Regions from separate parts of the Homo sapiens genome. Here all the other regions are linked to region 2. Evidence: fine-mapped expression QTL. A gene starts in region 2. Each other region holds a variant in brackets. All regions are shown on one strand. Distances are between the middles of the regions. Region 1 holds the start of LOC124903536 (a long non-coding RNA gene). Region 2 holds the start of MTHFS (methenyltetrahydrofolate synthetase). Region 3 overlaps ST20-MTHFS (ST20-MTHFS readthrough).

Region 1 (10,515 bases), 60 kb after region 2:
GCAGATTCAGATGGAAGGAAAACTATACCTACTAAAATTTTCAATCCTATTTACCAATTTTGCAAAGATAATTTTTTTTTAATTTAAATCTGGCTGGTAAATATCCATTTTCTTGATGTGAATCTGTCATTTTTGCATGTTAATCAGAAGGTGCTACACATTTACTTTGTTAAAAAGTAGGGGCTGGAGTTCGAGGTTACAGTGAGCTATGATTGCGGCACTGAAGTCCAGCCTGGGTGACAGAGCAAGACCCCGTCTCTAACAACAACAACAACAACAACAACAACAAAAACATAAAAAACAAGTAGGTTCGAAGCTTACTGAAATTCTTTCAAAGATTTTAAATCAAGTTAGAAAAATTCTGCTTACAAATTTTTCAGTTGTGTAGATGTGAAAGTGTTTGTAGGTGTCACACTATTAATAGTTTTTGGCAACATAGTCATATAATGATGAAAATATTTCCAAATAGCCATTTTTATATGCACTCTTCATACTACAAGTCTCTGAAAGTAGTTCCTTTGTGTCTCAGTGATGAACTATAACTTTCACTCTGAAAATTCAAATGAGATGTATTTATTTCTTTGAAGTTTACTAGTGGCCATTTACAATCTCAGAAAGGTCAGAAATGTGGCATACTTGCTCTTTGTGCGAAAAATACACATAAAACTCATATTTGAGTTTACAGCTTGTTTTTTTTGAGACAAGAATCTTTCTGTGTCCAACCCCCCCAACCCCAGCTGGAGTGCAGTGGCGTGATCTCGGCTCACTGCAGCCTTCGCCTCCCAGGTTCAAGCGATTCTCCTGCCTCAGCCTCCCAAGTAGCTGGGACTACAGGTGCCCGCCACCATGCCCAGCTAATTTTTGTACTTTTAGTAGAGACGGGGTTTCACTATGTTGGCCAGGCTGGTCTTGAACTCCTGACCTCGTGATCTGCCCGCCTCGGCCTCCCAGAGTGCTGGGATTATAGATGTGAGCCACCATGCCTGGCCAGTTTGTAGCTCTTTTAAAAGTATTTTACCTTGAGATGATCAGAGAAATTTAAGTGAATCAAAGTATTGTTCATGGGTACCTCCTATTGCATCCCAAAGAGTTGTAAATATTCTACTACATGTTGAAGTTCTTAATTTTATAAAATTCACATCAGTGATACTGTTAGCACATGAAAGTCTTGCCTGTGAATTATTTAGTAATGCTGTTGCTCAATTCTTAATGTGGAATCTACCATCTCATATTTATATATATATATAATATATAATATAAAATATATATATATAATATATTATATATATTATATATATATATTATATATAATATATTATATATATATATATATATATAAAATATATATATATATTTAGAGACAGAGCCTCTGTCTGTTGCCCAGGCTGGAGTGCAGTCGTGTGATCTTGACTCCCTGCAACCTCCACCTCCTGGGTTCAAGCGATTCTCCTGCCTCAGCCACCCAAGTAGCTGGGATTACAGGAGTGTGCCACCACACCCAGCTAATTTTTGCATTTTTAGTGGAGATGGGGTTTTGCCATGTTTCTCAGGCTAGTCTTGAGCTCCTGGCCTCAAGTGATCTGCCCACCTCGGCCTTCCATAGTGCTGGGATTACAAGCCTGAGCTGCTGTGCCCAGCCCCATCTCACCTTTAAAAAAAACATTTCAGTCAAAGTAGCCATTCCATCAGGGATTAGACTTAGTTTGCTCATAAAATAAACTTGTTTTTTTTTTTTAAGGTAGATTAATTTTGAGAAATATATCCTCACCACTTCATCGCTACCTTAATGTCTTTCTTCCTGCAGTGGTACCGTAAGAGGAGACATGTTGGAAACATCTCTCCTTCTACTCAGCCTCACGCCCTGAAAAATTTCTTCCTGTACTTATTTCTTCAGATTGTCAGCAGTGTTTTCTACTTGTCATCCAATAGTACTTCCTGACAAAAAGATGCGTCAGGGTCTTTTTCCCCCTAAATTGTTTCACCAGTATTTCATCCACATTTCCATGGTATGAAGAAGAAGTAATTTTTAAATGGTATGTTACTTTTTGTCTTTTGCTATTAAGTGAGAAAACTTTTGAAAGGTTTATAAACATTTATGACTATATTTAGTGAGCATTGCTTAACAAGTATTGGAGTTAGTATCTTATGATGTTAAGTATTGCTGAACACATGGTGGAGGTTCGTCTTATCTTCCGGATCTGTAGCTTCTGCTAATTGTGATGGCTTCACACTTTTCATTGTGTGTATCTGAAGAGTGAGATTCATCATTAACCATGGCGAACACAGATACCTACTTTAAAAAATCTTTGTGATAGTTTCAAATTTTTTGGCTGACTTATTGGTAAAACTTAATGTTTTTTCCTGGCTCATGAACAGCTTGCACCAGGAACAGAAGTATCAACTAGTGTTGTCATTTTTGCTTGCATTACAGGCTGAATATCTCCTCTCTGAAATCTTGGGACCAGAAGTGTTTTGGATTTTGGATTTTTTTAGATTTTGGAATATTTGCATTGTATACTTACTAGGTAAGCATCCTTAACTGAAAGTCTGAAATCTGAAATGCTCCCATGGACATTTCCTTTGGGCCTTATGTTGGCACTCAAAAAGTTTCGGATTTTGGAGCATTTCAGATTTTGGCTTTTCGATTTGGGATGTTCAACCTGTATTACAATTATCCTTGGTCTGCTGTTTCTTTGCAAGAATCTTTTTGTTTTTGTTTTTGTTTTTGAGATGGAGTCTCGCTCTGTTTCCCGGGCTGGAGTGCGGTGGTGTGGTCTCGGCTCGCTGCAAGCTCCGCTTCCCGGGTTACGCAATTCTCCTGTCTCAGCCTCCCAAGTAGCTGGGACTACAGGTGTGTGCCACCACACCCAGCTAATTTTTTTTGTATTTTTTTTTTTAATAGAGATGGGGTTTCACCGTGTTAGCCAGGATGGTCTTGATCTCCTGACCTCATAATCTGCCCACCTCGGCCTCCCAAAGTGCTGGGATTACAGGCGTGAGCCACCAAGAATCTTTTTAAGCTACTTGTCCAGTGGCTCGGTTTAGTAAAAACTACCTAATAGGTAAGCCCTTGTGTCTGGGCACATACCTAGGAACTGCAGTACATCTCAATATGCTGAAATCAACTAAACACCCCTCCCACGTTATCTAACTCCTACACCCCTGCCACCTCCCACCACAGCTTGTGTACTGTACCTGACATAGGACCTTCTGATTTGCAAGTGGAGGGAGGGGCTGATGTCAATCTAAATTTTAACTTTTAGCAAAATGCAATTTCTTGTCTTTTAAAGATGAAAAGTAAATATTAATAGAGGTTCTAATGTCTTCTTCCCAAACCCCAGTGGGTTAGGTTCACTGGTCACTGCACTTAGCAGCTCTGCTTGAGCTACAGGGTCATGAACTCCATCAGTCCCTCCTTTGTTGTGTGTGGTGACTGTATCTGTGTGTGTAGCCTCTTGCTGGTACTGGCCTCCCCAGGATTTCTTCATCTTTCTGGTCCCCCTGTGTCCCAATACAAGCCTCTTTGTCTTCTGTCTGAATGCTCTGGTTGGGGCTGTTATTTTGCCCACAGTATTTGGGTGGAATAACTTCTTTAAGTTATTCTTTTAAGAACAGAGTGCCTTTAAGACCCCTGTCACCTAGGAAACAACAGACCCCTTTCTTTTGGGTCTTTCCCTTTCAGACTTCCCCTGGCTGCCAGGATCTATCTCTGAGTATATCGAAGGATTTCCAAGACTAGATTAAAAACTAGAAATACTTTTTAAGTCCCCTACTCTTCCCCTTCCCATTTTCTGCCTCTTCCCATCACCAGTTGCAACTGTTTTTTTATTTTATTTTATTTATTTATTTTTGAGACAGAGTTTCGCTCTTGTTGCCCAGGCTGGAGTGCAATGGTGTGATCTCAGCTCACTACAACCTCCGCCTCCTGGGTTCAAGTGATTCTCCTGCCTCAGCCTCCTGAGTAGCTGGGATTACAGGCATGCATCACCATGCCAGGCTAATTTTGTATTTTTAGTAGAGATGGGGTTTCTTCATGTTGGTCAGGCTGGTCTTGAGCTCCTGACCTCGGGTGATCTGCCTGCCTCAGCCTCCCAAAGTGCTGGGATTACAGGCGTGAACCACCCTGCCTGGTCTGTTTTTCATTTTAATATTGAGGCTTATGATAACAGACCATATCATTGCCAATGAAAAAGATATCTGAAGGAAAACCTGTAGTATTTTATTGCTTTGATTATTATGTGTCCCGTGAATGTCTTATTTATCCTTTTAGTCTTAAAACAGTATGTTTGAAAAGTACACTTTCAAAGCAAATTGTTGTTTCAATGATGAGTCAGATCCCAAAGAGTTCACTACTATAAATGGCAAACATTTGGTTTATCACCGAGAAATAATCTCTTCAGGATTGAAATACAAAAGTGTTTGTTATTTCCTCCCAAGCTTAGAGATAAAGAATACTATATTATTCTGAAGATCTGGGTTGGGATACTGTAGATGTTGACCATGTAGAATGGATACACTGCTATAAGTCCTAAGTACTTGCTGTTCCTCAAATCTAGGGGTAAGATAAGATAGCAAGTCCTACTCCCTGTAGGTATACTTAATGTAAGAACCAGAGGACGGTAGAGATTAGTTATCTGTGTGGCCATCCTCCATACTCCAGGCCATCCTCCA[GGCCATCCTCCAT/T]ACTTCCATGATTATCTTCATAAAACATAACTCTGCCCAAGCCACCTACCTGCTTAACAGCTTTTGATGGTTCTCTATTGCCCAAGGAATAAAGTCCAAACCCTTAGCTTGCAGATAGGGCCCTTTCCAGCCTGGTTATAACCTTGCGTTATCTCTCTCTCTCTCTCCCCCCATCCCCATTTCTCCCCACCCTCCTCCATGTGCGCGCACGCACACGCAAACACACACACACACACACACACACACACACACACACACACACACACACTTTATACCCTTCAGACCAATAATGCTAGGTACCAACAATGTGGGGTAAGAACTAGATTTAAACAATTGAATATGATAATTAGTCTATAACAAGGAAAGTGTGTTAACAGATAGTGGATGATTCGGGAATGGAAGAGTCAGTGAACCACCAAAATATTCTAGAAAGTGAGTATTCACCTTTATTGGCACGTGGATCACCTGGGGATCTTGATACAATGCAGATAGTGATTCAGTAGGTCTGAGGTGTCTAGGGTGGGGCCTGAAATTCTGCATTTCTGACAAATCCTGGGTGCTGCTGCTGCTGCTTGTTGTTTGCTGCCCACTTTGAGTAACAAGATTCTAGGGTGCACTGTCCAATGTGGAAGCCCTAGTCACATGGGACAATTTAAACTTAAATTGATTAAAATTAAATAAAATTTAAAACTTACTTCCTTGGTAAGCAGTTAAGATGGTAGCCACATCTTAACTGCTACATAGGCTCATTTGGCTAGTGCCTACCATATTGAATAGTGCTCTATTTCTGTCATCACAGAAAGTCCTATTGGACAGCACTGTTTTCTAGAGCACTATTTTTCAAACTGTTTTCTACAGACTACCTCTTAAATCAGAATCTCTGGGGATGGGGGTTGGAAATTTGCATTTTACATAAACACCCCAGGGTGCCTTCTGCATGTTAAAATTAGAGGAACACTTCTATAGGGGATCTAAAATCTGCTATCCAGAGGTAAATTTAATGTGAGAATAGGCAAATATCACAGACAGACATGGGGCAGCTCAGCTTAAATTGGAATACTCTCTTGCCAGCCATGAGAATCATATCCAGTTGTCTACAGGTGCAGCAGATTTTGTCTGGCAGAGATGACTTCTGACACCAAAGCTACACAGGCAGCCTGGGCAACATAGATCTTGTCTCTACAAATTAAAAAAATTAGTTGGGCATGATGGCACGTGCCTATAGTCCCAGCTACTCAGGATGCTGAGGTGGGAGGATCACTTGAGCCCAGGAGGTTGAGGCTACAGTGAACCAAGATTGTATCACTGCACTCCAGCCTGGGCATCAGAGTGAGACCCCATCTCAAAAAAAAAAAAAATGGCTACATAGGGTGGAGGAAGTATAGTCCTCAAGCCAGTGGCTTTCTGCAGGTGTGCAGCTGGTCCCAGGTATGTTCTCTGGTCTCATATGCCTTCTTGTCCTCCAAGTGCTAACATCTGGTGAGGACCACAGCCTACATCTGGTTTCAAGGATGACTCCCAGTCCTGGAAGGTACAATCAACTTATTCTTTTTCAGATCAATTGGATCTGCCTTTCCTGCCCAGGAACATATCTAGGGAAAATCTTTTCATTTTTTTGTCACATTTCAGATATAAAAAGAAGTTCCATTTTCAGGGATCAAAAAGTTCAGCCCAATCTTAAATCAAAATTTCATTTTCTTATCCAGTTTTATGCTTGTTTCTTTCTTCTATGTCCCCCTCCTCTCCCAGCTCAGACGTAGTCTTGGTGTAGAATTTCATTTTCCTTGCTCCACAACCTGTCTAATGGCTTTGAAGGTTCTGACAGTCAAGGAGAAAGGCAAAGCCACCTCGAATCAGTGCTAGTATAACCTGGCCATCAGTGCCTTCTGTGTGTCAAATGCCCAGTGGATTTTCTTAGATTTCCTTTGTGGTTTTTATGGAGAACCTCTGCTGGCACTGTGTGTATTGTACCATTCTCTAGCTTACTTCTGACAGTCTCCGCTCAGATCCTGCCCTGCAGAAGCACACTCCTGAAGTTCCCTAGCCCAGTGGCAGCCTTCTTGACCAAGTCCTTTCAGGATGACTTGAGTCTATTAATAGTTCCACTTGAGGTGACTACTCGACTAAATAGGTAATTGGCTGCACGCCAGACTGGAAGTGTCACCTGCTCCCATGCTACTCTTGAGGGCTGCTCCAGACAGTCCACAACTGTCAGAGTTCTGCTACTTCCCCAAGTGCTGGAAGTCACGTGTCACATTCTCCCAGGAACTGCTGTTCCTCTCCTCCCAGAGCTAACAGTAGCACCAGGGTGTCTGATTCTGCCAGGAGGTAGATTCCTCTTTTGGCAAACACTTCCATACTCTGAAGCAGCCTTTACTTGGCTTGGAGTGATGGCAGGGAATCGTGGGGAGGGGAAGGAAAATGTCACAGCACCCTTACACTTATAAGTCCTCTTTCTTCAAAGAGTCTGCTTAATCTCTTTTTTTCTAATACAACCTGGAGAAGGATGGTGGCGGCGACTAAAGAGCCATTCTGGCTCTCTGTTGGTAAATCCTGCGTGGATGTGCATGTTGGACACCCCTTGTCCTGTACCTACATCCTTTCAGACCACTTTTTTCCCTCCAGCCATTGGGTACAGCAGACTGGCTGCATACAGGTGAAGCCAGACAGCAGTTCTCCTCACCTGCATGATTTTCAGCCCTGGAATGTCACATCTGAGTGAGACCCTTGCAAGGACCTTCTCAGTCATTCTGGTGCATGTACAAACCTGGAAGTGTGTTGTAGTTAACACCTCAAGGGGTAATGAATGCTTGGCCAGTGTGGATTAGAAGCCAGTGGATAAATTATCTTGTCTTCCAACCCTTTGGCAGACAATTCCGAGGTGTATTCTCCATCATTCCTGAGAGGATTGTTAGGCTAGTAGCAGCAAACTTCTGTGCCCATGGTGGGAACCAGGTGGATAATTCACCCTCAAATTGGCCTTCCTTCTGTTTCCGTCTTCCCAGTCCCCACTCCTGTTTTTTGGGGATCATTTCCCAAAATATACTTTCTGCATGCAATTCCTTGTCCCAGGCACTGCTTTTTTGGGGACCCAGTCTAAAACAACATGTTCATTACCTCTCTTTAGAATATGGTGATACTTGTCATTTATTGTCCTTGCTTTGTGGAAAATTCTAGACCAAAGGAGAAGTCCCATCTAACATCCTTCTGTACATCATTACTGGAAATGAAGAGCTGACAGTCATAGACTGATTGCCAAGCAGAACCCCACACTGCTTAACAGCTCGCACAGCATTCCTGTTGATGTGAGTTCTTGTTCTTGTTCTGGTTTTTGAATGGGGGGTAATTTGAGGTGGACAGATAAACCTTGATTTAGATGTTGAAGAGGGTCTCTAAGAGCAGGAGGTAAATTGGAGTCTATAGTCTAAGATTGCTTTGTATATCAGTTATGGTTCTTTGCTTCAAGCAAAGACTAAAGTAAGAAAAAAGCGAGCTATTGGAAGGAGGACTAGATGCTGTGGCATGCCTCCCAATTCCTCATTAGGACTGAGGTATGCTCTCCTCCAGCTCCCAGGATGTTGGCGGCAGGTAGCTCTGAGCTGAGGCCTCCCCTGCAATTGTCCTTGGCTAAGGAGGGCCACCTTGCCCAAGGTTACAGCCCCTTCTTGATGGCAGCCTATACCCAATACCTGGTCATTTTGGAGGTGCAAAGCCTTCGTTGCTTCAAGGCAGGACACCTCTGAAGGGCCATCCTAGCTCCAGCTCCCCAGGAATTGGCTGAGGCCTATGTGCAGTGCACAGTTTCATTTCAGGTCCTAGTCTCTGCTCAATCCTGCTTCCTTTCCTCCCTCACAGGTGTTGTTGCTGAGAGCACTTTCCAGTAATCTTTCTGCACACAAATCACCAGCTCAATCTGTTTCCTGGGGAACTTGAACTACAACAGAATGATACTGGGGAGTTTGCAAAATCAAACTAAACATAGGCAGCAGGAAGGACACAAAGCAGGGGAGCCCCAGAAATCTTAGTGGTAGAAACTTTTAAACCTCTTAGGGTACCACCAGGGTATCTCTGCTCAATATTTAAATCCCTGGAAGGGAGCCTCTGATTGGCCTTGTTTGGGTTGGGAATCAGGGCCCTGTGATTAGAACTACCTGGGGTAGTGGAGAGGAAAGAGAAGCAACCTGTGTCTTCCAGACCATGGTATCTGAAGTTTTCTTGGAGGAAGTCAAATAAATATGTGGGTTGAGGATGGGAGCTCTAAGCAGAGGATGTGGTGGCTCATTTAAGATCACACATTGACAAAGAGCAGAGTGGTGTCAAGATTCTGGGACAGAGGCAAGTTAGAAATAAAACTCTTGTTTTTCCCAAGGTCCATCATACAACTGAAATGGAAGACTATGGCTTGCTGACCAATTCTTGCTCATTTGGGGTTACTTTATATAGGGGGATAAGTGTCCCTTCAGGTGGACTGAGAGTCACCAGAAGATTTAGTGGAAGGACCCTGCCTCTGGGGATGCATATGTAGCTGGTACTAATGAGTACTTTCTATGTATCAGAAAGCCACCAAATATCACTCTTCCTCCCCTGAGTTCAGAACCACCTGACAGACACAGGGGTCATATGGGGCTAGGTCGAAAGATCAGCTTGATTAATAATGGATTGGTGGATGTAGCCTGGGTATACAGCTTCCTAGTACTAGACTCCTACATCAGAGACATCCATTCTCCAACCATTCACGAGAAGAACTGGCCAGACACCGTAGGCTTTCTCATTAGGGCAGGAGCTCAGCACATGGCATGTCCACACTGAAAGAATGAGAGGAAAAAATGAATGGAAAATACAGGTGGTATTGAAGAAAGAGCACTCTTCCTGTGGGGGGTCAGATCCAAAATAAAGAAACCAGATGGGGCTGAATCTAACATGCTCTGCTCCTTCTGTGTAACTCACCACCCAGAGTGAGGAGGAGTGAGGGGAGGAGGAGTGAAAGGACAGGTGTGTCGCTCTGGCCAAAGTCCTTCCATGTGCTCACATGGAGCTGGGGAAGAGGAAGTGTGGAACAACTACTTTCCATATATTTACATATATTAGCATATCTAGTTTCACAACACTATGAAGTATCACTGTCCTGATTTTATAGAAGATGAAACTGAGGCCAAGGCCATCTTCCAAGGATGTGCTGGCTTGGGATTTGAACCAAGGAACTAAGTGTCCTCTGATCTGAAAGCCCATGTTCTTTTCAGTGCCCTTTACCTGCTCCTCATTTGGAGTGCAGGGGAAGGGGAGGACTCCTGGCTCTCTTCTCCAGCCCTCACAGGGGTCCTGAAGCTTCCAGCTCACGTTGGGCCTGGTTGCTTGAGTTACCTCATGTACCTGAGTCTACAAAGGCTTCTATGGGAATGTGACAGATTTGAAGGGGCAGTCACTGGGCCCGTACCAGGAAGGCTGGGAATAGGGCTCCTTTCCTGTGGTGCTTAGCGTTGGTCTCCCCTGCAGGACCTATACCCGCTTGCTAGACCAGGCCGTCCTCACATGGCCAAAGAGGCTGCCACAAAGGCCTCACCTTGCCTCCCACCAGGACACCCTGGGCCAGGGCAAGAGCAGCTGCTTTAGCTCAGCCCTTCAGGTCAGGTCTGCAGTAATCAGCTCCTTCCAAGGAAGGCTGGGCCCAATGGGGTCTCTGTTAGCTTAGGCATGCCCTTTAGGCTTAATTCTCTCTGGTTATGAAGCCCCAAGACTCAACCCATCCCCAGCTGGCTAGTCTATTCTGTTGGACTCTGACATTTTCCCCAAACCTGGCTTTTCTCTTGGTTTCCTTACAAGCCTTTGTGTCTT
Region 2 (9,638 bases):
GAGCCACTTCGCCCAGCCTGGTTTTCCCCTTTTAGATATAATGGTTCAGTAGTGAAGCATAGGTATGCTTTTCTGGTGCCCCCTACCTTCCAATATTTTAGAAGACTGCCTCATGATAAATTTCTAACAGTGGAGTAACTGGTTCATAAGATGTGTGTATAATTACGATATTCTAGCATACTGGAAAACATATTTTCTTTTCGAAAGTATTATATCAATAGAACAATATCATAGCAACCTTATCAGTGTGGGTGGTACTATTAATAATTTTGAGGGTTTAATAGGCATCAAATAAAGCCACTTTAATAGGTCTAAAAAAAATAAGACTTTGTTAAAATGTACATTTCTTTAACTGCTATTAATGTTTTTCTCATATACTTGTGAATGATTTATATTTCTCTGTTTAATGGTCTCTCCTTTTTAAACTATTAAGGGCCTGAGAATTTTCTCTCACATTTGAATGAACACTTTCATGGTATATGTAAATATTTTCCTAGTTTATTGTTCTTTTTAGTTTTTCATAGTTAAAAAAATTTTTAATCTTCATCTGGCTGAATTTATCAATATTTTCTTTGTTCACTGTCCTTTCTTTAGACGTTGATGTATATGACATGTTAACTGATCAATGATAATAGACAATGATTATCGTTATAATAAAAGTCATTTCAGAGGGTCTCATCATACTTGCGAAATATGGTGTTTAGGAAGGGGCGTAATGAAGTGGATACCTCCCTAGAGTGTAATCTATGAGTATGTACTGGCAGAAGGGAAAGAGGAAGAAGAGGGGCAGTTTCCTTCCTCTGTCAAGGCATGACAGCATGTCTCAGAGCACGACGCACACTTACGTAGGCAGAAAATGGCTTTCTAAGTCTTTCAAATGAAATCCCCCTGGCTGGTGGTATTCATCTGCTTTGCCAGTGATGTTCATAAAATGATTCCAAGGCACCGCAGAGCTCTCGAATCTCTCCCAACTATCAAAGGGTTATGCTTGGTTTACGTTTCAATATTAGTTACACTTTGCTCTGAGCTACTTGCAGGCATTTGTAACCCCAGGTTCTGGAACCTGTAAGATGCAGCCACAAATGTTTGCTAGATGAACATTCGAAAAAATTATTTTAACAATTTTCGAATATTTTGGCACTTGTTTGGAAATGTATGGAGTGGAAAGAAGTAGGGTATTTGCATTCTAATCCAGGTCCAGGCACCAAGGGTTTGGCTAATCTTAGATAACTGATTTTTTTTGTGGGCCTCACTTTCCTCATTTGTTAAGAGAGAGCATTAGGCTAGATGATCTCAGAGGGACTTTTCAGTGAGGATTCTATGATTATAGATTGTAAATTAAATAAAATGTCCAGTTAATTGGGTTATCCTACATTTTTAAAACTATGTCCGATCACAAAGAGAGTAGATTATAAAAGAAACCATCAACCTTTTCATAGCTTCAAAGGTATTGGTTTAATTTGGATTTACTGTGAGTTCTCATGAGTTTCAATACAATGCAGTTTACAGTATAATAGAATTCATATTACAAATATAAGTGCATTGAAATCAATGTTGGACAATTAAACAAGAACAAGAACAAAAAGACTTTTTATCCTCTAGAGCTGTGCTTGCTGTTCACTATGGTAGTAAAATGTGGCTAGTCTGAATTAAGATACGCTGTAAGTACTAAATACTCATGAGATTTTGAAGGTTTGTTATGAAAAAAACTATCTCATTAGTGATTTGACATTGATTACATACAGAAATCATTATCACTAAATATATCTTAAAAATTAATTTTTCCTATTTTTGTACTTTTTAAAATGTGGCTACCAAAAATTAAAATTACAGATGTAGGCCACACTGTGTTTCTGTTACACAATGCTCCTTTAGAGGGATAGAAGATTATTTGCATTATTTAAATGAAAATATTTTTGCTTTTTATTCCAGCATACTTAATCTCCAATGATTTTTAAAATGTTAAATTTATTCTCTCATAGGAAAATGGCTTTGTAAAGAAGCTTGAGCCTAAATCTGGCTGGATGACTTTTCTAGAAGTTACAGGAAAGATCTGTGAAATGCTCTTCTGTCCTGAAGCAATACTGTTGACCAGAAAGGACACTCCATATTGTGAAACCGGCCTAATTTTTCTGACTCTTACGAAAACGATTGCCAACACATACTTCTACTTTTAAATAAACAACTTTGATGATGTAACTTGACCTTCCAGAGTTACAGAAATTTTGTCCCTATTTAATGAATAAATTGTATGTATTTTTCTCTATATGCCATTTTTGTCTTCAGTTTTGGAGTCTGGCTGGAAATTCAGCCAAAGGGTAAAAGCTCAACACAGGATCCAGGCAATTAATTATGGGATGATGACCAGGAAGGCGGTGTCTTTTCTGCCCCAGGCAGACTTTTAAGGTGTGCCATTACCCCAAAAGTCCTTTTCTGTGTCACTAGGCTAGACTGCAGACTAGACTGAGAAGCGGACTCAGGCTAGAAGCAGACTCAGGTCGGCTTCCCTCTTCCCTCCTTCCTTCCCATGCTTTCTGCAGTTTCCAGTGCCCCTGGCTGCTTAAGAGTTTCCATTGATGCCTCCTCCCCAGCCTTCTCTCTCTGGCTTGCCATTTGGGGTTGATGGATATGGCAACCTGATATGCAGGATACTCTGGGATATTCTGAACAAAGAAAATTGGTAAATGATTCAACGTGGAGCTAGTGTTAATTTTAATTTTTATTTTTTGGTAAAAATGAACAGATTAGAAAAGTACGTAGTTTGTTAGACCTCGTGTTCTAACTTTTAGGTCAGCAAATCTAATTGCACTATGTATACGCTGTACCTGCCTGGCCTTCCCTTTTTCTTACAACACAGTCCCCCTGGGACTTGCATTAGCTTTCCCTGGAAGCTGTTGATAGATTCCATAAAGAAGCCAGAACTCCCCTCTCAAGCCATGTGCATTCTCACCGGGCACTTAATTAATGCTTTACCTAGGAGGTGTGATTCTTAACGGTGGGGATTAAGACACTGGGGCGGTCAGTAGGGACGTATTTTTGGCAGAGACAGCTCTGGTTTTCTTAGGAAGTCACATCTGAGAGGCAACCGTCTATGCCATCTGAGGCGCCTGTCTACTGGGAGCAGTTTAAGACTTAACAGTTTCTTTTACCTCTTCCTGCAAGTGCCTCACCCACCCCCCAACTGCTTTTAGTTTTAATTCATTTTTGTGTTTTAATCAGAGCTGAGTGGTGGGAATGAACAGTCACTGATGGTTATAACAGGAAGTACCTATGTGGGCACTATTACCTGGAATACATTCACACTAGAAACCCGCAAAATTTGGCTTTTACACTACAGTTATTGCTTTAGCAGTGTTCCCGATTATGTATCATCTATACATTCATCACATAAGGACATTTCCATCAACCACTGTGGTCCCTTAAGATTATAATGGAGCTGAAAAATTCCTAATACCTACTGATGTGGTAGCCAACCAACACATTACCTTTTCTGTGTTTAGATACACAAGTATCACGGTGCTTACAATTGCCTACAGTATTCGGTACAAAATACGCTGTACAGGTGTGTAGCATAGGTGTGTAGTAACTTTGTGTAACTACACTCTGATGTTTGCACAAGAAGGAAATCGGGGCATCTGTCAGACCTATCCCTGTAGTTAAGCGACTCGTGACGATTTCGCTACATGTCCTGCCTTGCCCTTCTTTTCTGGCCCCTGAAGTCCCACTACTGAACAGTACAAGAGATGCCAGGCACCGTGGGTACTGCCGGCCATCTTTACCATCCCCGCCAGTGGCGCTGCCGCCTCCGCGGTCCCGGTGAGGGCCCAGGCTCAGGGAGGTCAGGCGGCAGGGCAGCGACGGCGCCTCGCCACCGCTCCCCTAACCGGGGAGGGCGAGCCGGACCACGGGGACCGCACGAGGGCTGGGTCCCAAGGGCCAGAGGCGAGGTAAGCGCGCGGCGCGCCGCGGGCCCGCGTCCCGGAAGCGGGGTGGGGGCGCTTCCCCGAGCCCCGACCCGCCCCTAGGCCGCGGATCCACCTGGGAGCGGCCAGGGGCGGAGACCGAACCCGAGGGCGCCCAGGGCGCCGAGGGCGGGACTGGACTCGGCTTGGGCGTGAGATGGCGGCGGCAGCGGTGAGCAGCGCCAAGCGGAGCCTGCGGGGAGAGCTGAAGCAGCGTCTGCGGGCGATGAGTGCCGAGGAGCGGCTACGCCAGTCCCGCGTACTGAGCCAGAAGGTGCGAGGCCGCCCGTAGCGGAAGCCGCGGCGGACAGACCCTCCGAAGGCCTGGCGGCCAGCGATTGCTGATCTGTGCATGGTCCGTGCTGGCGCTGGGCTAGGCGCCCCCCCACCCCCCGGCGCGCGCACGTTTCCCCTCCCGGCGCGCGCACGCCCCCTAGTCGTGGTCTGGACGCTCTTGGCACTATGGCGGGGAGAGGGCCCGGTAGTGAAAGTTGTGGGGCTAAAGAGCGAGAGGACGGCAGGGGTTGACAGATTTATCTCTGGGAGGGGAGTTTGTTTGCATGGGTGGCTCTTTTGGTGCTCGAAAACCCTCCGTGGGGATGACGGTGCTGTGGTGAGAGCACGGTGAGAACAGAAAGTTGTGGTAGAGGAGATGGGTGAACACCTGAGTGCCCAGGTTCCCTCAGTGAGGCCTAAAGTTAATGAGCTACGAGTAAGACTCCGGTTATATTAGTAAAATGGCCAGAGAAAGATGCAGGTGCTTTAGACGAGGGAACACCAAAAAAGGTGTGGAGATGCCAAAGGGCAGAACTCAGAGGTTGACTGGACTTCACTAAGCATATGGAGGGCTAAGGCTGTGTCTCAGTAGCTCCAGGGCCTAGGCTTTTCCTGTCTCAGAGTTGGTCAACATTAAATGCTTTTTCTTGAGTGAACGAAAGGAAGACTTGGCTATCATATCCAGGCTTCCCAAGAACGTAGGAAACAGAAGAGAGAAATGAGAGGAATAAGTGAGGGTCCGTGTTTGTTGGTTAGCAGACCTCTGTTTCATTACTTTCACCAACTGCACTGCTATGTATTTTTAGTCTATGTAATGTCAGTTTTCTTATCAATAAAATGGCAGTCATATCCTGTTGTGAAGGCATGTTCTAAAGAGTTTTTGGGGACTCATTTTTGTTAGACACCAGAGGAAGAAAAATTTAATGTCCCCTGAATAAGTACGTATTTGTAATTCTGTTGTAAGTCAAACTGATGATCTGTCTTCCCAGCATCATGCTTCAGAGACACCAGATATTTGGAAACTTGATGTTCCTTGGAATTAGTTATACCATCAGGCTTTCTTAATTACCCTTCACTATTCTATTATCCGTTATTTACTCAAATTCAAGGTGCCTATGGGTTAAAGCAGTAAAGCATATATGCTCATTTCACCCCTCTCTTCATCTATGTAGGTGTGTATGAGGGAATCTATACAGATGTTAATTCGTTCGTTCAAACAGAATTATTTTAGCTATTATGAGGAAGCATTGCTGGGTGTTTTAGTAGATGTAAAGGATATAGACTCTTGTCCTTACTATCTAGTTGTTTAAAATTTAGCTAATTCATTCACATATGTTGAACACCTATGTAGTGCACACTTGGCTATATACTGGGTTGTGGAGATGAAAAAGATATGATTGTTGCTCTAAAGGAGCAGAGAGCCTAGAAGAGGAAACAGACATGAATAAAGAATTGCATTGAAGCCAGATATATGATAAAGGTAAACACCAATGTTGTGGAAACATAGCCTTGGGGAGGGGAAATTGGAAAGCTTTCTATTGGAAAATGTTTGAGATGAATTTCGGAGAACAAGATGAATTCTTTCAGGTGAAGGGAAAGATGGGATAGGGGAGTGTGAGTAGGGATATTTAGGCAAGAGATGACAGGATACAGTTTAGCATGGGCTTTGGAACTGCACAGATCTGGGCTGAATCTGGCGCCATTGTTTTTTAACTGTATATCCTTGGACAGGTCTCATAATCTCTCAGAACCTTTGGTTCCTTGTCTATAAAATGGATAATATCACTCTTGTAGGTCGATTGTGAGAGTTAAAGAAGTGTGTAAAGGGATGTATTCAGAGCTTTACCTATTGTTTGTTATGTCCTTTAGGAAGAGTATAATGGCAGCATTTGGATAATGGGTTGAGGAAGGAAGAAAGAAAAAAAATATGGAGACCAGTAAGGGGCTGTTGTGCCAATTCAAGTGAAAGATGAAAAATATGCAAACCAGAGCATGGGCAGTGAAGATGAGGGGAAAGGAGGCAAATGGGAGACTGTTAAGTGAGAAACAGCAGGACTTGGCAACTGATTGGAAGAGGTTAGAGAATACTGGAAGGGGAGGAGAGTCACCAGTGATTCCAAAATTTAGAGCTTGGTATAATGGTGTTTAGCCTTAGGCATAAAGAAGGTAGGAATTGGAACAAATTTTGGAGGGGCATGGGGAAAATAAAGATGAATTCAGTTTCTAATCTTCTACGTTGTCTTTCTCCGTAGAAGATTAGAATTCATAAACTATAGATGGAAATAGTTTACATAGATACAGAGTCACTGACAGCAATAGAATGACGACTGAGAGCTGGCATTAAAGGAGGAGAGAGAAAAATTAAAAAGCAGACCCATGACCCTCAGTAATAAATACATTTTACTCTGTACAAACAAATATACACATACAAGGAACATTTTACAGCTCTTAAGCACATACAATGAAATTTAATATTTTCTTTTTTTTTCAAGACAGAGTCTTGCTCTGTCGCCCAGGCTGGAGTGCGGTGGCATGATCTCGGCTCACTGCAACCTCTGCCTCCCACGTTCAAGCGATTCTCCTGCCTCAGCCTCCCAAGTAGCTGGGATTACAGGCACGTGCCGCCATGCTCAGCTAATTTTTCTATTTTTAGTAGAGACGGGGTTTCACCATGTTGGCCAGGGTGGTCTCGAACTCGACCTCGTGATCTTCCCGCCTCTGCCTCCCAAAGTGCTGGGATTACAGGCGTGAGCCACTGTGCCTGGCTCGAACTTTAATATTTTCTATTCTATTTCATTTAAAAATTGTAGCCCACTATTGATTTCATGACTAACCAATGGATCATCACTGGAAACATCAGTGTACTGTGTAGTGTTTTGCCATAGTGAATGCTCAATAAAGGTGTTAAATGATGTCTTTCATTTAGAAAAGCGTATTTATTCTTATTGGCACTGTACCTTTTTATAACTTAGAAATTTATCAGAGAAGTAATTTAAATGGTAAAGAAATTCAGGTTTATGTCATATCTTGATTCCCTAAGATGAGGAAATTAGTGCCCCTTTACTCACTGTGTTTTCTACTCCCTCTGTCAGTTTCTGACATTTATATTGTTATATTTATGTTGTCAAGTTTTGTAATTTTTCTTTTTCTTTTTCCTTTTTTTTTTTTTTTTGAGAGGGAGTCTCGCTCTGTTGCCCAGGCTGTTATGCAGTGGCGTGATCTCGGCTTACTGCAAGCTCTGCTTCCCGGGTTCATGCCATTCTCCTGTCTCAGCTTCACAAGTAGCTGGGACTACAGGCGCCCGCCACCACGCCCGACTAATTTTTTGTATTTTTAGTAGAGATGGGGTTTCACCGTGTTAGCCAGGATGGTCTCGATCTCCTGACCTCGTGATCCGCCTGCCTCGGCCTCCCAAAGTACTGGGATTACAGGCGTGAGCCACCGCGCCTAGCCAGTTTTTCATTTTTTGAGACAAAGTATCGCTTTGTTGCCCAGGCTGGAGTGCAGTGGCGCAATCTTGGCTCACTGCAACCTTCGCCTCCCGGGTTCAAGGAGTTCTGTGCCTCAGCCTCCCAAGTAGCTGGGATTACAGGCGCCTGCCGCCACGCCTGACTAATTTTTGTATTTTTTGTAGAGACAGGGTTTCATCATCTTGGCCCGGCTGATGTTGAACTCCTGACCTCATGATCCACCTGCCTCGGCCTGCCAAAGTGCTGGGATTACAGGCATGAGCCACCACGCCTGGCCAGGTTTTGTAATATTTAAACTTTGTTCTGTAACTATAATGAGTCTACTGAGCAGTATTTGTGACCGATTTCCAAACTTGAGATTTCAGTAAATTGTATTTACAGTAAACAGTATTTACAAAAATATGTAAAGCACTGAATACATACCTTGTATTTATTTTTTTAATTTTTTTTTAGATGGAGTCTCGCTCTGTTGCCAGGCTGGAGTGCAGTGGCCCAATCTCGGCTCACTGCAACCTCCGCCTCCCGGGTTCAAGCGATTCTCCTGGCTCAGCCTCCCGAGTAGCTGGGACTACAGGTGCGCGCCACTATGCCCAGCTAGTTTTTGTATTTTTAGTAGAGATGGGGTTTCACCACGTTGGCCAGGATGGTCTCGACCTCTTGACCTCATGATCCACCCACCTTGGCTTCCCAAAGTGCCGGGATTACAGGTGTGAGCCACCACGCCCAGCCGTATTTTTGTTCTGTAGATGGTATTCATTGTAGAATCAAGTTGTATGATTGAATATGTAAGAAAAGACATAACTTTATGTCACTAGATATGTGTAGCTAGGAAGGTAATGTTTCAAGTGTCAGTACCAAAGCTTTTCTCTTTTCCCCCATAATTGCTCAAAATCATTCTCTTTTTTACTTTGTTCCCATTTGGAGCATATTTCTAATTTCTGTATTTTTCCAGGAGCTTCTGATTGCCTTTATTTTTCCTTTTTTGACAAATCAAGAATATGTGTTTATCTTATCAATAGATTCTTTTTCATCGTCTGTTAAAATAAATCCACTCTCTTTTTGAAAACACTCCAGCCCCTTGCTTCTTCTGGTCTGGTTGCCTCTGGCCCATTGCACTGCCATTGCCCTGGGGTTCCTCCTTACTCCACTTCTGAGTTAGGGCTGCTTTTTGAGTCTAATATCTTTGTCTTTCTTGGATTCTTTTCCCTTCATCTTATTAGAGTATATTTTCAGATAATTTTTTTTGAGAAAGTATCTTTGGGGGTGGTAAACTTTTAAATATACATTAGGAAATGTTTTACCTTCATACTTGATTGATAGTTTGAATTTCAAATTTAAAATTATTTTCCTTGTTCTGCTCAGCACCCATGGCCCCCATTCAATATGGAGACTCGTGTTTTTCTTTTTCTTTCTCTTTTTTTTTTTTTTTTTTTTTTGAGATGGAGTTTCATTCTTGTTGCCCAGGCTTGAGTGCAATGGCATGATCTTGGCTCATCCTCTGCCTCCTGGGTTCAAGTGATCCTTCTGCCTCAGCCTCTCAAGTAGCTGGGACTACAGGCATGTGCCACCACGCCTGGCTAATTGTTGTATATTTAGTAGAGATGGGGTTTTACCATGTTGGTCAGGCTGGCCTCGAACTCCTGACCTCAGATGATCTACCCGCCTCCACCTCCCTAAGTGCTGGGTTTACAGGTGTGAGCCAAGTATATCTTCTTTGATTATTTATTTTCCTTTGTGCCTTTTTGGAACTCTTGTTAATCAGATAATAAAAATCACAGATTGATCTTCTCTATTTCTTAACATTTTTTTCATTTTTCCTATTTTTGCCTTTTCCCCTACTCCACGGCTTTCTCCTAAGTTGTTTTAATTTTGCTAATCACAATTTTAGTTTCCATTGATTATTTCATAATTCCCTGATTGCTTCCTCCCC
Region 3 (10,515 bases), 31 kb after region 2:
CTTTTATTTTTGAGGCTGTCTTTGTACACATCAGTGAATTCTTGAATAGGATAGAATTCTAGGGTCACAGTTTTTTGTTTTTGTTTCTTTTGTCCACCCAGAATTCTAGCCCAGGATTTGGCAATTATTTTCTGTCAAGTGCTAGATAGTAAATATTTTAGGCTTTTCAGGCCATGGAATCTTTGACAGCAGCTCGATTGTGCCACTGCAATATGAAAGAAACCATAGACGGTACCAAAACAGACAGTGTTCCAATACAACTCTATTTACAAAAACAGGCAACAGACCAGATTTAGTCTTAGGGCTATAGTTTGTGACCTGTGTTCTAGACAACTAGTCTGTTGTCTTGTGGTGATTAGTATTGTAGGTGAGGTCTGATGTCATTCATGTTTTCCTTTGTAAGAAACTTGTTTTTTCATTGCTTGACTTCTTTTAGGAATTTTTGTTATTTTTGATTTCCAAATTTAATATTCATTAATTTTGTGAATTAATTGGTATTTAGTCATCTCTTTCATCCTAAAGTTTCATGTCCTTTTTAACTCCAGGGAACTATTTTCAACTATCTTTTTTGATAATCCCTTCTTTCCTCTGTTTTTGAAATTATTATTATAGTTACTTTGGTTCTTCTGGATCTGTAATATATTTCTCTCATCTTTTTATCCCCATCACTTTCAAAATCATTTGGGTTTATAACCGAAGTTCCCTATCTTGTCTATTTTATTGATTTGGGTTCTTCTTCTGTCTATCCTGTTATTCCTTTGCCATCATTAACATTTTAAAATTATTAATCTTTTAAAAAAATCTGTTAAGTGAGCCAGGCATGGTGGCTCATGCCTGTTATCCCAGCACTTTTGGAGGCCGAGGTGGGAGGATCATTTGAGCCCAGGAATTTAAGACTAGCCTGGGAAACGTAATGAGACCCCATCTCTACAAAATATTTAAAATTAGCTGGCTGTGTTGGCATACAACTGTAGTCTTAGCTGCTTGGGAGGCTGAGGTGAGAGGATTGCCTGAGCCCAGGAGGTCTAGGTTGCAGAGAGCTATGCTTGCACTCCCACCTGGGCAACAGAGCAAGACTGTGTCTCAAAAAAATAAAACAAAAACCTCTAAGCAATTGTTACAAATCTCAGATTATTCTTTTGTATGACTGTGTTTTCTAATTTTATATTATAGATGCAGCATATTCTCAAATATCATTGTTAAAAGCTTTGTCCTGAAATATGTCTATTTTAATGGGAAATATTTGCACTGATTCTTCAGACTGGTCCTTCTCCCCATCTTTATTGTGAGAGATATAGAATTTAACTTTTAAAATAGTAATTAAATACCACAACAAAGTAAGGATACTTGTGGAGTTGTTTTCTCTTTAAGTAAGTACAATGACTAAAAATACTTCATTTGCCAAGAGTCTGCTTTCGTTCCTTTTGTATATTTTATTAAATGCTGGTGGCATAAATACATACTTACTTTTATTCCTTATGACCTGATGTAGTCACAGTACCCCAAAGTACTGTATGTATTATCAAATAAGCTACCAACACTCACCGTTTTTTCATTTTTCATGAAAAGGTTTACATTAAAAAAAAATGCACCTAGTGTATAGTCAGAGTTCTCAGAACCAATAAGTTTTATGTTTGTGTGTGTGCGTGTACATCTATATTTACATCTATATCTATACTTTTAGGAGCTTTATTATAATGAATTTGCTCATGTGATTGTGGAGGCCTAGAAGTCTCAAAGTCTGCTGTCTGTAAGCTAGAGACCCAGGAAAGGTAGTGGTGTTTACTCAAAGTCCGAAGGACTGAGAACCAGGGGAGCCTATGGTGTAAATTCTAGTCCTTGTGCAGGAAATGTGATGAGATGGCCTAGCTCATGCAGTTAGGCAAGAAAGAAGGGACAAATTCCTTCTTCTGCCTTTTATTCTATTCAGGCCACCTGCATTGAGATGGGCTGTCCACTTTACTGAGTCCACTCATTCAATTGTTAATCTCATCCTAAAACACTCTCATAGACACACATAGAAATAATATTTGGTCTGGGCACCTGTTGGCCCAATTAAGTTGATGCATAAAATTAACCATCACACCAAGAAATACCTCTCCTTTCCCCAAACCCTTCATAGTACGTGCTATATTTCTCTTTGAATCTAAGAAGATTATCTTCTATGAGGAAATAATCTGCTCCACACAGAAACCTGATACAGAGCTCTTTCAATAATGACTCATTCTCAACATCATGAAATTATATTCGAAGTTGCAGAAAATTCACTATTGTATATTGAATGCTACATTGAAATTGGAAAGAAAAAGGTGATATAAAATAAAAGCTATTACATATTTTGTGCTTCTCCCTAATCTGCTTTATTCATTGGAAATTCCTACTTAAGTTTAGTCTGCTTAAAACAAGCTAGATACTTGATTTTGCATGCAACACCTTGGCTGTTACTTTTACTGTCTCCTAGCACTGTGCTACAGACTGCAAAATATTTAGAGAAAATTCAGACCTCGCTCAAAATAAAAAATAAAAAATGCTAGCATGGTCTATACCAACGTTGGATTGCTGGGCTCACTCTCACGTGTGTGATCTCTCTCATTCTCTCGCTCGTGCTCTCTCTCTCTCACACACACACTCCACTCAAAGCTACAGTGTGCATTCTTCTATGATCCCAGTAGATTGTAGGTCTCTGTATTGACTGGAGATACTCTTCCAAGTTGAAGATTTAAAAAAGAACTTTAGATTTTTAGTGCTGATTCTTCATCTTTATATTTAGAAAATTGTCATTTTTAGATTCCTGATAGAAACTTTCTCTAAAACATTATCTTAGTACATTAATTAGAAATTTATGTCCCACATATACTAGCTCTAGTAATTTACTGGTGACTAAGGCATTGTTAAGAAATGTGTTTGGAAAACTTCTGTTGGTTTTTTTTTTTTATGACCATCATTACATTTTTTTCTATTTTTTCATTTATCTACGTTTAAAAATGTTTGGAAATATTTCAGAATTTGATAGTTATAACAAGCTACAAGAGAATAAAGATTTAGCTGGATTACAGAAAAATATCTACTTAGTAATGAGTGAAAATGAGATAAATTTGTCATATGTGACATATGGTAATATACATACAGAGGCCTAAAGAAAACTTCAATGTCCCCCCCTTTTTTTTTTTTTTGCTACGTAATCTTATTTCCTTAGAAAGAGCATATTGATTTTACTCCACTGAGAGTTTGGCTTTCTAAAATCACCTCAACAGTTAATTGATGGTGATAATCAACCAAGAATTGTTCTTCATTTATATAATTTGCTAACTTTCAAGTTCCCATTGAGTTGAGAAAGATAGTGATGATAGCTCTGACAATATACCTGAACCAGTTTGGATAGGAATGTTTAAAAGATGTATTAGGCTATTTTTATCCTGTAGAAACTATAGTTCATAGGAGTGGTGAGTTAGGGGAGGCTGGAGAATGGGGGAAAATGGGAAGTAAGATAAATTGTTGGTGTATGTGGTTTTGCAGATTTGCTTTTTTGGCACTAAAAGAGTACTTTTTTTTTTTCTTTTCTTTTTGAGACAGAGTCTCACTCTGCTGTCCAGGCTGGAGTGCAGTGGCATGCCCAGGCTGGAGTGCAATGGCACGATCTCAGCTCACTGCAGCCTCTGCCTCCCGGATTCAAGCGATTCTCCTGTCTCAGCCTCCCAACTAACTGGGACTACAGGTGCCTGCCACCACCATGCCCAGCTAACTTTTTTGTGTTTTTGGTAGAGGTGGGGTTTCTTCATGTTGGTCGGTCTGGTCTGGAACTCCTGACCTCAGGTGATCCACCCACCTTGGCCTCCCAAAGTGCTGGGATTACAGGTGTGAGCCACCGTGCCTGGCCAATCACTAGCAGTTCTTAAGAAAAAAATGTTTTGGAAGGTCGTGTGTTTGCCCTCGTGTTCTGTGTATGCACGTGCACTGAATAGGAGGCAGTCCCAGGGTCTCGCCTGCTGAAGAGATCCTGCACACCTACTGTCTGCTTGGCTGTCATCCTACTGTATTGTAGAAGCATCCACATCAGCTCCCTTTTTATTTGGGGGTTGTGCCCAGATCCTAACTCTCAACAAGATGTTTTTCATTATGCTTTATCCAGGACACTCTTTCTCACTGCTGTTTTCAAATGCCTTTGGGTTACTTCTGGGAAGTATAGATTCAAACTCTTCCATCAGGTAACTGTTTTCACCAAATAATGTACAGGTAAATATTTGGAAGACATAAGAGAAAATCAAGGGGAAAACTTAGGAAAGAAGGAAACCGTTGAACTCAAATAGTTATCTTCTGGACCCATGATCAGGTCCTCTGAGGGAAAAAACACAGATCCTTTTATTCATGAGAACTGGACATATTCCTGCTGCTGGATTTGTTCTTAGCCATTAGCCTCTCGAATGCCACCATCGCTGTCACAGAGACCAAAAAAAAACAAAAAGCTGCTCCTGTTCCTCCTCCTTAAAAAAAAAAAAAAACTTATAAAATTTCAAACTGCAGTGACTGTTTTCTCTCTTCCCTCACCTTAAAGAGGTTTAGGTTTGCCTGCTATTGGTAGTTCTGATGGGCTCTGTTAGAGATTGTGTGGTTGGTGTTCAGGCCCAGATGAAGAAAGAAGGGAATAGTTTAAATTTGCTACATTTTGTTTTGCTTGAGAAAGATGCAGTAAACTGAGGGGAGAAGGGAATAAGCGATTATTGTAGGCACCTGCCGGAGGGAGCTTTGCCACTGTATGAAGGATTTATTTTCTCCATGGTTGGTTTTTGTCAGCATAGCCCAGTATTTGCAGGGGCAGAAGATCCAAACATGGAGCCTTTGTTAGGA[T/G]TCATGGCCATACCCACATTTTGCCTAGCACACTGCTGAGGGTAAGCAGGGATGAGGGCTGAGGTGGTCTTCCTCGTTAAATCAGCTTTGCACTAGGTGTCTGAGGCCCAAGAAGGGTCAAGATTTGCTTTTTAGCAACTTGCTGCCCAGAGACCCATCGTTACGATACGTATACCTGCTCCTCCTGGCTGGGGGCTTGACTGCAGTTCCACACTGGTTTCCTTCCGGCTCTTCCCAAGGCAGCCATTTCTTTAACATGTATTTCATTATCAAATTCCCTTTTTCCTAAATTATATCTTGCAGAAATACCTCGAAGTTTCCGACTTAGATATGGCATTCTTTCCTGGTTTCTAATCATAATAGACATTTTTCCCAAGTTTGTTTTCCTTTGTTCATTTCACTGGAAATGAAAGTAGAAAGTCAAATATTTGTGCTAAGGTCTTTATCTTGAATTTTAAGACTTATATTTAAATAATGACAGTTTTACAAGTTCAGGTACATTTCCACTTCGTTTTCTTGTAATAGAAATTGTGTATCTTTATGGATCAAGGTTTTCTTTGTAAAAACAGTGGGAGTTACATTATTGATAACATTTTGAATTTAACCTTTTGAATCTGCAAAAGGTTGCTGTAATATTTTGTTTCATTGTGAACCTCTCCCCTGAAACAAAGAGAAAACACATCACAATATTTGGAAGTTTGCCTGGAGTGAACGTTTATTTTTTTGGGGTGTTTTTCTTTTTGACTTTTTAAAAAACAGTTTTTGTTGTTTAAAAAACTGCAAATGCCAGCCATAAAAATATTCTCTATTCCATCTGCCTAAGGCCAAAAAGAAATCAGAATTAGGCAAATGAAAATCAGGAGCTGAGCCCAGTGATCAATTATGTCCACTCTGCCTTTTTCTTTTCCTTTCTAAAGTGTTGTATTTGTTCACTCACTTGTGTAACAAATATTCTGAGAGTCCTACTGTGTGTGACACTGTGCCAAGCAAGGGGGTACTAACTTGTCATAAGCCTGGACCCTGCTTATGAGTCAAGTTTCTTACACTATATTGAAGTAAGCACCAGAAAGCGTGTACAGGTCTATGAAAGCTCAGTTTCTGGACATTTACTCTCAAGGACTTTTTTTTTTTTTTTTTTTTTTTTTTTTTTTTTGTTGAGATGGAGTCTCACTTTGTTGCCCAAGCTGGAGTGCAGTGGCGCAATCTAGGCTTAATGCACCCTCCACCTCCCGGGTTCAAGCGATTCTCCTGCCTCAGCCTCCTGAGTAGCTGGGACTATGGGCGCGTACCACCACACTTGGCTAATTTTTGTATTTTTAGTAGATATGGGGTTTCACCATGTTGGCCAGGCTGGTCTCAAATTCCTGACCTCTGGTATTTCGCCCACCTCAGCCTCCCAGAGTGCTGGGATTACAGGTGTGAGCCACCGTACCTGGCCCCAAGGACTTTTTGTACAGAGACAGTGACATGGGTAAATTATTAGTAGCTACCCTTTGTCTACTAAGTGCTAAGCCTTATGCTAAGTGCTCTTACATATGTAAGCTTATTACTCATCATGACTATGTTATTATCTCATTTTCACAGTTGCAGAAAGTAAGTCTCAGAGCATTATTTATGGGCATGCCACAGTCAAAAGGCAGAGCCAGGTCTTCCTGCCAGGTCTGCTTTCCCCGAAGGCATGCTGTTTGTGGGATGGCACACGGTGCCTTTCCTTACTGCCGTCATGTGCTGTGGAGGCGAGTAAAAGGAGGGCATGCTCAGGTTATCAGTTAGAATCAGATTCGGCTGCATGTAGCAGAAAACTCCAAAGTATCAGTGAAAACTTCAAAATATCAGTGAGATGCTTGGAAAAGAAGTCTGGGAGTTGTATTTATAGTCTGTGGCTGTTGTACAGGCCCCACAGTCATTAGGGACAGATCCTGCCGCATATGCCATATGGTCCTGCCTGGTATCTCAAGCTTCGGCTATCAACTCTGAATTGTAGTCAGCAGGAGGAAAGAGAGGGTGTTGGGAGAAAAAGAGCATCCTTCACCTTGAAAGTCCCATTTGTCAGAACTTAGGCACAAGGTCATACATAACTACCAGGGAAGGTGAGAAATGTGGTGTTGCGGTGGGATTCATGGCCTCCTGAGTAAAGTTTTCTGCTACTAAGGAGAAAGAGAGAATGATGTCCAGATGGGCAACCAGCAGCCTCTGCTGCATTCAGCTCAAGGCAGGTTGTGATTTCAGTTGGTGTCATGGCCTGAGCTGAGGCTGGAGGCCCACGTTGTGAAGGGTATTGTATGTCACACATCTGGGATTTGAACTTTATTTTGTAGGTGCTGGGAGTTAGTTATTGAAAGACTTTAATCATAGGAGTAACATGACTAGTTCTATGTTTGGGAAAGGTTGTTCTGCCAGAAATAAGGAGGACAGGCTGTCCCAAGGGACAGCCAAAGAAACTGGGAGTGGACCATCCCTTGGGAATCTGATGGATTCGAATGGATGAGAAATGATGACCACTTTTAGAAATGGAGAGGATAGAACAAGTTCTGACATATGCAGCATGTAGAGTCTCCAGGCCACTTGAGGCTGTTGAGGGACAGTCTGGCTTTGCCATCTGCATGTCATGCTCTTAACCTAGGCAAAGAATGCAGAAGAGAGAGGAGATGTAGGGGGTTGGGGGACACATAGTGAATCCCGTTTGAGGTGGCTCCAGGACCTCCCAGAAATGCTGGTAGATGGCTAGTTGGATATATAGCTCTGGAGGTCAGGACATAGGAGATATTGATTCAGGACTTGCCAGAGTATGGTCTTGGGGTGTGCCCTGATATTACAAACAGGGATCTTAGTGGCTAGGTGATGAGGCCATGGCAAATGTAGATGGACCAAGATCAATTTGCCTTTCTAGATGAGGTTTTCTAGGTGAAATGTTTTTGAAACTATTTTGTAGCCTAGTATAATTTATAAAAGTAGAGAGAAACTATAAATATAAATTTGGAAGGGGTTAGCTAAAAGGAGAAAACAGCAGAATCTTCATATATATAGAAATGGATATTAATTTGCTAGAATTAAGAGACTGCAGGTAAAGATAGTTTTTTTAATACCTCTTTTTGCTGTAGAAAGGACAGGATAAAATGATAAAGGGATGCTGGAATGAGGAATGGTAACTTTAGGCAAGATAGTCTTCTGTGAGGGCTGATATGATCAATGAGAGTAAGACATTAGAAATACAAGAATTGTCCTGCTGCTCACCCATCAGCATTTTCAGTTTCTCCTTGCAAAAGTAGTAATTAACTTTGTACTTTGAGCTGTATGTTCAGTTAGTGATAAACCGTAGATAAAAAGCAGATTTAATTGGCTGACCCCAGGTAAGACTTGCCTCTCTCATGTACCCTTTGAAGGTTTAACAAATAAAATTTGAGGGAAAGGTTGATGTTACTTATAGGGTGTGTTAGTTAGTTTTTTGGGGGTGGGAAGGAGGCATATTTATGTGCAAGCTGCCAAATATTTGAGATAAGGACATAGTCTTTGAATGAAAAACAGGGATATGAGAGGATTGATTCAGTTAGCCGTCTTGGCCAACCCAAGTTAACTGTACTTCATCTTAGTCTATGTTGGTGTTAGAAACAACAAAAAGGAAAAAAAAAAGCCAAACAGTAGAGCAACAATTCATTCATTCATAAAAGTAATTACATGCCATCTAACTAATCACATGGTAAATAATTTAAATGGTTTAGAAGGGTATGAAAGAAAAAGTCCCACCCCTCTTCTTCCCAGCCTGTTCCCCAGATGTGACCACTGTTAACATACTTGTGTATCCTTCTAGATATATATATTTGTATCCTTTTAAAAAATTTATACAGATAGGATCGGAGTTCACATTTTGTTTTGCATCCTACTTTTTCACTTGTTGATAAACCATAGAACTCTTTTCATAGCAACACATATAGATTTAGCATAGTGTTTTAAGTGGTTACATAGCATTGATGTGCTCTAAGTTATTTAACCAGTCTTCTGTTGATAGCTATTTGGGTTGCTTCTGTTTTTTAGGTATTACAAATAAAAATAAAAAAGAACATCCTGATAGATATTTTTCTGCATAGTTATGCAAGTAAGTCCATGGGATCAACATCTATCCATGAAATGGCTATGAATTCTAAATTTTTATAGGTGTTTCTGTATTGCTTACTAAAAAAGGTTATGCCACTTTACGTACTCATCACCAACACATGAGAGTATGTTGACCTCTCCCTGAGTGAGTGAATGGCCGAAATAACAAATGAACGTGCATTAATGACTACCAGTTGTGTGGTAGCCTCCATGTGATGCCCTGGAAACAAAAAGATAAATAAGGGGCAGTGGTGTCTGGCCATAGGAGTTCACATTTTGTTGGGGAAGACAGGTGTATGGAGGGGGACGATGGATAAGGAGTGGTTAGGATCAAGGTTTTGGTCTTAGGTGGAGTTGAGTCTAGTTACTGACTGCTGCATACTAGCTGAGTGGACATGAGTAAACCCCTTCACCTAAGCCTCTGATCATTTGAAAATGAGGGTAATAATATCTGCTTCACTAGATTGTTTTGAAGATTAAATAGGAAATTTACATAAAGCTTTTAGTACAATGCCAGTGCATATAAGTGCTTGATGATGATGATGACGACGATGACTATTCCACATGAACTAGTGATTTCAGTCCTGGTGCTAAGGATCCCATTGGGATGTGCCCAGAGTGCTCTGGGAACACAAGATGGAGATTTCTCTTTGCCTAAAGTGCATGAGAAGGCTTCAGAAGGGAAGTTGTAATTAAGTCTTTAACTTTGAATAGTGGTTTGCCATGAGGTTGTATCAGAAGGAAACATACCCCTTTTAATAAGTCTCTCAAGAAAGTACACTGTAACCGGAAACCTCATTAATATATTGAAAAAGTTATTCTCAGAAGAAATTCATTGTGGGCATCTGTGTGAATTTTCAACCTTGGAAGTAACTTAATTTTGTCTTATCAGTATTTCTGGTTTTGTTTTGAAGTACTAATCAAAAAAAAAATCCTTAAATTTTAATTTCTCCTTGCTTCTTTGAAAAGTTATAATGGTTAAAATACACTACTTATGAAAATTTCAAAATATATACTAAGCTTTCTAAAATGTTTTTTAACCTTTCTAATTCATCTTTTGTAAAGTGCTGTTCTTTGCCCCATTTCTTTCCGGGAATTTATCTTTCTCTTGGTATTCATTTATTTTTTTCCAGGTTGGTAACAATTCTTTATATATTAAAAGATTAACCATTAGTCTGTCATGTATGCTGCAAATAATTTGTATCCATTTTTTTTTTTTTGAGATGGAGTCTCGCTCTGTTGCCCAGGCTGGAGTGCAGTGGTGCGATCTCTGTTCACTGCAAGCTCTGCCTCCTGGGTTCACGCCATTCTCCTGCCTCAGCCTCCCGAGTAGCTGAGACAACAGGCACCCGACACCACACCCGGCTAATTTTTTGTATTTTTGGTAGAGGCAGGGTTTCACCATGTTAGCCAGGATGGTCTCCATCTCCTGACCTCGTGATTTGCCCACCTCGGCCTCCCAAAGTGCTAGGATTACAGGCGTGAGCCACCACGCCTGGCCAATTTGTATTCATTTTTAAACCTTTTTCTTAACTTTTTGTATTTTGAGGGCGAGGATACAGATGTTTTAAAATGTTA

What was found. PIP is the estimated chance that this variant, and not a neighbour inherited with it, causes the effect.
Region 1: its variant is fine-mapped to the expression of MTHFS in whole blood (TOPMed, PIP above 0.99).
Region 3: its variant is fine-mapped to the expression of MTHFS in B cells (CEDAR, PIP 0.95).

Annotation. Positions count from the first base shown.
Region 1 is chr15:79,830,999-79,841,513 of GRCh38, reverse strand. It overlaps LOC124903536 (a long non-coding RNA gene), which reads left to right and starts at 1,594. Exons shown (of 2, transcript XR_007064730.1): 1 at 1,594-7,988; 2 at 8,539-10,515. The variant GGCCATCCTCCAT/T (reference allele first, on the strand shown) is at 4,672.
Region 2 is chr15:79,891,470-79,901,107 of GRCh38, reverse strand. It overlaps MTHFS (methenyltetrahydrofolate synthetase), which reads left to right and starts at 4,094. Exons shown (of 3, transcript NM_006441.4): 1 at 4,094-4,236. The coding sequence starts at 4,120. All of the region lies in intron 2 of ST20-MTHFS (ST20-MTHFS readthrough), which reads left to right. ST20 (suppressor of tumorigenicity 20) reads left to right here. Exons shown (of 3, transcript NR_037653.2): 3 at 1,983-2,266. RefSeq lists an enhancer at 3,596-3,645 and a silencer at 3,786-4,085.
Region 3 is chr15:79,860,031-79,870,545 of GRCh38, reverse strand. The region is part of intron 3 of ST20-MTHFS (ST20-MTHFS readthrough); the gene reads left to right. All of the region lies in intron 2 of MTHFS (methenyltetrahydrofolate synthetase), which reads left to right. Among named protein-coding and RNA genes, the nearest start is that of MTHFS, 32 kb to the left of the region's middle. The variant T/G (reference allele first, on the strand shown) is at 4,846.